Linked DNA regions of Homo sapiens. The protein of the gene in region 1 purifies or fractionates together with the protein of each later gene. This does not show direct contact. Each region holds a gene or a part of one and is shown on either strand. Other genes may lie near its edges. The genes, in order: RARG and ZNF423.

Region 1 (2,889 bases):
CTCAGCCTCCTGAGTAGCTGGAACTACAGATGTGCACCATGGTGCCTGGCTTTACATTGTATATTAACTAATTTAGTCCTCAAGACAGCGTTACAAGGTACGTGAAGAATAGCCCAGTTTACAAACAAGATTAAAAAAGTAAAGCAATTTGCCCAAGACTTTGTCTCTAAATATATATATACACACACACACACACACACACACACACACACACACACACACATACTTGGAATTGTGCTGAATTAAAAATTCAATTCTGCAGTTGCAGTAGTCACATTTCAGATGCTTAATAGCCACATGTGGCTAATGACTATTGTATTCCCATCATTGCAGAAAGTTCTACTGGACAGTACTGGTTTAGAAGCAATTTGCCCAAAGTCTCCCACTACTATGTGGCAGAGCTAGGATTCCAGTGTAGATTGCCTGGTTCTCAACTACTCTGTTCTTGTCTCTGTGTGTCCTCCTGTCCGACCTGGGAGACCAACAGCCCTGGGAAGACAGAGAGGGGACACCCACTCATGACTCACCCTTAGTGCTGATGCCCCGGAGGTCGGTGATTTTCATTAGCATCCTTGGGAACATGTAGGGCTGGCTGGGCCGCCGGCGCCGGGCGTACAGCCTCAGGGCTTCCAGCAGTGGCTCCTGCAGCTTGTCCACTTTTTCGGGCTCCTCCAGGTCCATGCGGTCTATGGGGACAAGTATACTGGAGTGAGAGGGGAAGGAAGAGATGGGGAAGACACAGTGACAGATGGCTGATCACCAACCGGCGTTTTGGGAAGCCTGTACAGGGTTTCAGAACTCTCTGGATGGGGCCAGGTGCAAGAATTACCAGCAGAAGAGACCACTGGGTCCTCCACGCCCCCTCCCAGACAGATTCCGCATGGAGTGGTGGGAAAGGAGACTGAGCACTGAGCAGACGCCAGGGGGCGCCCCCGCACCTCCGCAGATGAGGCAGATGGCGCTGAGCAGCCCTGTCTCGGTGTCATCCATCTCCAGGGGCAGGAGCTGCCCAGCAAAGGCAAAGACAAGGTCTGTGAGGGGCCCGAAGCCGGCATTGTGCATCTGGGTCCGGTTCAGGGTCAGCCCGTCGGAGAAGGTCATGGTGTCCTGCTCTGGGGTGTACCTTGTGCAGATACGCAGCATCTGGAGGTGGGGGGTGGAGGAGGGTTAGTGCTGTTTCTGGGGGATGGGGAAAAGAGGGAATGAGTGGAAAGTGAGGAGGTTAGGTCCCCAGTGAGTGCAACCTGAAGCAGGCATGGAGAAGGCAGAGGTGGAGGATCTGAGGCTTGGCAGGGGTAGTCCCGGGAAGTCAGGAGGAGACAGGGCATCCAAAAGTCTAGGATCAGGTCATAGGGGCAGAGGCTAAGACGAAAAGAGAGCTGAGGAGTCCCACATGTGTGGCAGGGGGTGCAGGGTAAGGAAATCTTTGCATGGATCAAGGAATTGTTGAGGGTCCCATATGTGGGTCGGGCTGTGGCAGGACCCACAGGGCCTAACTTACCAGGATATCTAGGCAGGCAGCTTTGAGCAGAGTGATCTGGTCAGCAATGCTGAGCCCTGTAAAGCCAGGCAACCGCTTGGCAAACTCCACGATCTTGATGATGCACTTGGTAGCCAGCTCACTGAACTTGTCCCACAGCCCCAGATCCAGCTGCACGCGGTGGTCTGCACTGGAGTTCTGCAGAGGGGAGGGGTAGAAGGTTGGAAGGCAAGCTAAGGCCCACCTCTGGGGGCTGTCTTCTCTCTACCAATATCCCAAGCTCTCTCCTCTGCATTCTGATGCCCTCCTTGTCCTCAGCACCAGTCGATGATAGCCTCCAACACAACCCAGCCCCATTCCCCAAAGTGAAGAGTGCCCTGCCCTCACTGGGCTCTGCCCATTCCTCACCGTGGTATACTTGCCCAGCTGGCAGAGCGAGGGGAAAGTCTCCTGATGGGCTTTGCTGACCTTGGTGATGAGCTCTTCTAACTGAGGGCTCAGCTCATAGCTGTCAGGTGACCCTTCTTCCTTCACCTCTTTCTTCTTCTTGTTCCGGTCATTTCGCACAGCTTGTGGGTGGAGGCGCAAGGAGAGGGTCAGGACCCTCAGAGCCTCCCTTTGGGTGTCCTCTCTCACCCTAATTTAATATGCTCAGTCCTTATCATGAATATCTATTCTCTGGCACTGTAATTACTGCCTCAGTTTCCCTATCACCTATAATAGCTCCTATTCCCAGGCTGGTTCTCCCCAGCCCCACCCAGGGCCTGCAGCCCCTGCTCCTTCCCCAGGCCATTCGGCTCCATCCTGTCCTTCCTGTCACCCTGCAGGAGCTGGGGGAGGGGGGGCAGGATATGCAGGCGGCAGGATATCCACTTATAGCCTTGGCAGCACAATGGGGGCGAGGGGGGGGTGGAGAGGAGGAGCCACCCCATATCCATCTCTGGCTCAGTCCAGGGGAGGGAAAGGGACTGGCAAGCCCACTGGCTTCATTTCCCCCATGAAACAGGGGGAATGTGAGACCCTACTTATTCACCCATTCAGAGGAAGAGTCAAGCTCCCTGAGAGGGAGAATGGGAAATGGTGGGGCCTCCTGGTTGAATGGAGCTAATCAAATAAGACTGGCCTGGGAGAAGGCAGCACCCCAGGGCAGGCCAAGTCTCAGAGGTCAGGGAAGTGGGAGTGGCCAGAGGAAAGAGGGCCACAGCCATAGGGTAGGACCGAAGTGCTCCTGCCCAAGCCAAGGATGGCAGCCTACCTTCCTTGGACATGCCCACTTCGAAGCACTTCTGTAGCCGGCAGTACTGGCAGCGATTCCTGGTCACCTTGTTGATGATACAGTTTTTGTCGCGGTGACACGTGTACACCATGTTCTTCTGGATGCTTCGGCGAAAGAAGCCCTGGAGTTGAGG
Region 2 (3,819 bases), on another chromosome or scaffold:
TTGTTCTACTTGCAAAGTCAATTACACAATGTCGGAGCTCAGTTACCAAGTTGACTTTGGAGGTAACAATGTCTTTCATTCTCTTTTTAAAGATATAATTTCCCTTTGTTGTTGTGGTTGTTGTTTCGTTTTCTTTCTTTTTTAACCTGCCTCCCTCTGTTTACCTCCCCTCCCTCTTGCCTCACCCCCCTCAAGAGTCTGAACATCCTAGCTAGGCAAACACACTCTGGTTTCAATTGTGACAAGTCAAATTCAAAGGCAACCACATCATTATCTCCGAATTCTTCAACTCATTCACATTTCAGTGGCTTCTTATTGATATAGTGACTAAAGCAGCCAAGATACATAAAAACCCATCAAATGAGATTGCAGTGTTGATAATCTCTTATCAAGTGGGTTGTTCTCTGGATTTGGGGTCATTGAGGTTGGCAAATTCAGAGTTTTCTTTCTTTCTTTTTTTTGTGGAGACTACAACCTGGGCTGAACCAGGTTCTGGGTCGATGGGACCCTGGCAAACAGTTTTTTCTTACAGAAGATTTATAGGCATTTGTATCTCAGAGGCTGGAGCCATTGAGTTCTGGATTTGGGATCCTGAATGACGTCATGTAGAAGGGTAGAAGGGGTCTCATAAGAAAATCATGTCATCTGTCCTTCTCCCTTTGCAGATGGCAAACTCCAATCATAAGGCGATCCTATCAGGTGATCCCAGTGTGCCCACTAAGGACTCAGGAGTGATTTGCATTCCCGTCTAAGTGTGCAAAATCTTGCTACTGAACAGGAGGAGAAAACCTTGAAAAATATTCAAAGCTGAATATGGTTCAGGTGGATATTTTTTAGATGCCTGCCCCCTATCTTCTGTCCCTCCCTGCCTTCCCCAGAAAGAGGAAACCCTAATTCCTTAGTTCTCTAAACCTGGTCATCCAAGAAGCAGTGACCTTCGAGCTGCGGGTTGTTGGAGCATCCTCCTGCCTGATACACTGCGGTGCGAGGTGCTGCCCTGCTGCCAACTGCCTCCAGATGACAGGGATCCATCAGGAAACTCCGTCCGAGACACTAATTGTGGGCCCCCGAAGTTATTATTATGAACCACCAGACAAGAGCCTGTATTCGCCAGCAATTTGTCAGGACTAATTTTGTTTTTCTCCAATAATTGAAAATTAATGTCTTGAAGTGAAAGCAGATGTTCATGTCATCTTCTGAATTGGGATATAAAATGGGGCTCTGTGGATGTGCTAATTTAACAGCAATTTCCCTCTCCCAGATAATGGGGGTGCTGGGGCTGATGTCACCTTTGGAGCAGGGACCAGGGGCCGGGAGAGAGACAGAGGCCTGGGTTATGCTTGTGCTTCTCGAGGGTTTGTTTTGGAGGGAGAACCCATACAGAAAAAGATTTGCTTGTGCTATGAAAGTTGGAGAACTCACTGTTTTGAATATTCATTTGCAGAAGAAGTATTTTTTGAGGTAATTCAAGCATTATGCTGGGGAGCCTTTGTTTGGGGAAAGGGTGGCTTCATACAGATGAGTGGATCCCCAGCTGTCATGCCTATCACCGTCACCTACAATAAAGCTGGTTAAATTGCATATTCCTGGGCCCAGGTCCTGCAGATGCTCACCTGGCTGGTCTGAGGAGGGGCTTAGATCTCTTCATCCCCCAACTCCTGCTTTTAAGCAATTTTGATAAAATATACGTAACTTAAAATTTACCATCTTAACCATTTTTTTTTCCTTTTTTTACAGACAGGATCTTGCTCTGTCCCCCAGGCTGGAGTGCAGTGACGTGATCGTAGTTCACTGCAGCCTTGAACTCCTGGGCTCAAGCAGTCCTCTCACCTCAGTCTCCCGAGTAGCTAGAACTACAGGCTAATTTCTTAATTTTATTATTTGTAGAGATGGGTCTATGCTGCCCAGGCTGGTCTTGAATGCCAGGCTTCAGGGAATCCTCCTGCCTCGACCTCCCAAAATGCTGGGATTACAGGCATGAGGCACCTTGCATGGCCCATCTTAACCATTTTTCAGAGGCATTAAGTACATACACATTGTTGTCGGGCTGTCACCACCATGAATTTTTCATTTATAGTTGGCACCCAAATGATGGTGGATTAGGGATCTGCAGCCCACTACCCCAGAGGAGGTCATCCAGGCCAGCCTCCCATTTCCAGGGTAAGAATGAGAAACAGAGGCTTAGAAGATGAGGCCATTCTCTCGGCGGGGGGCGGGGGGGTATGTTCTTTGCCTTGTTCTAGTGTAAGAGGTGAGATTGGATTGTCCAAGGCTAGGGCAGGGCATAAGACTAGGGTTCCATCAGGGCTGGGGGAAAGGGCAGGTGGGGTGCTAATAAGGACTTGCTGAGTGATCTGATGACCATTATTAGGATTAGAATATTTGTTTTGTCTCCTTGTGGGGACAGCATTCTTTTGAGACTGTGCCTGGTGGGTTGCGAGCTTGCCCAGTGGCCCTGGCAGATCCCTTGTGGCCCCTATGCCTGCCTGCCAGGACTCAGCTCCCTCGGCCTACCCAGTCCTGCACACTTAGGCCAGTTTGTCTATGACAAGGAGAGAGAAGAATGGCTGTTTTGTCCACTTGATTGCCTTGCTTTCTAGACCATCTTGGGCCCAAAGGTCTAGGCTTTGCAAACTCTTCACTGCCTCGCTCCTTGGAGGTGCTTGGAAACTTTTTCTCCCCCTGTTTTCTCTGTAATTGAAATTTGCCCTTTCGTTACCTGGGCATGAATTATTTTTTGCAGTGTTGTCATTCCCTATCCTGCTGTGAGGTTTATCTCTTCTGTTGATCCTAATTAAATAAAACATACTGTTCACCTAACTCCTGTTGCACTGAATTTTACCTGCCTGAAGGCAGAGTGATGACCATCTGGGCTTAGTTAGGGAGGTGGGCATGGCTGGAGAGGGCAGCTGGGTTGGTATGACTACACATTCAGGCTGGAAGACTGGGCAGGGGGACCTCCTTGGCCTGGAGGCTGCAGAACCTTGGAGCCACCAGCAACATAGAGTATATTTTTGGTTCCTGAACAAGAGATATGGCTTTGTCCCTCACCCCCTGTGGCTGCAGTTTTGAACTTGGAGAGAGGAGAGACAATCATCAGCTCCTGAGGGTCCCCAGGGAGAGGGAGAGGGAGGAGAAGCAGGTGCCCTGAAGTGGGGAGATGGAAAGAGGAGGCAGGCTTCTGTCTCTGGGGTGGAGGCCACAGAGAGTGCTGGGGTCTCTGGGGAGCAGCAAGCAGTGCACGGGTTCTCAGTGCCCAGGACAGCCCCTGCAGATGCCTTGTGCCCCTTAGGGAGACGCTGGCCAGCCAGGGGCCAGACACACATTTTGGGAAGATTCACTGTTTTTGCCTTTGAGCCTCTCCTAATCCTGAAAAACACAGGTTGAAAAGGAACCTTGGAGCTCACTTCATTTACACTTCTTTGGGTGTGTTTCTGGCAACCTTGGTTTCATCCAGCCTGGACGTACACACTTTCACTCGCAGGGCGCTCACTACCTCTGTGGCATATCTATGCCTTTTTTTTTTTTTTTTTTTTTTGAGACAGAGTCTTGCTCTGTCAGCCAGGCTGGAGTGCAGTGGCACGATCTTGGCTCATTGCAGCCCCCACCTCCCAGGCTCAAGCAATTCCTGCCTCAGCCTCCCGAGTAGCTGGGATTACAGGCATGTGCCACCAGGCCTGGCTAATTTTTGTGTTTTTATTAGAGATGGAGTTTCACCATGTTGGCCAGGCTGGTCTCGAACTCCTAACCTCAGGTAATCCGCCTGCCTCGGCCTCATCCGTGGCTTTTTAGCTTGAATTTCACACATGAAGCTGCAGT

Evidence for each region.
Region 2: the proteins of RARG (region 1) and ZNF423 purify together in Homo sapiens (co-immunoprecipitation; one study listed by IntAct). This does not show direct contact.

What each region holds. Positions count from the first base shown.
Region 1 is NC_000012.12:53,212,558-53,215,446, forward strand, and holds part of RARG (retinoic acid receptor gamma), read right to left. Parts: intron 2,878-2,889; coding exon 2,736-2,877; intron 2,050-2,735; coding exon 1,889-2,049; intron 1,679-1,888; coding exon 1,502-1,678; intron 1,144-1,501; coding exon 939-1,143; intron 687-938; coding exon 528-686; intron 1-527.
Region 2 is NC_000016.10:49,846,019-49,849,837, reverse strand, and holds part of ZNF423 (zinc finger protein 423), read left to right. Parts: intron 1-3,819. UniProt on the Homo sapiens protein: Transcription factor that can both act as an activator or a repressor depending on the context. Plays a central role in BMP signaling and olfactory neurogenesis. Associates with SMADs in response to BMP2 leading to activate transcription of BMP target genes.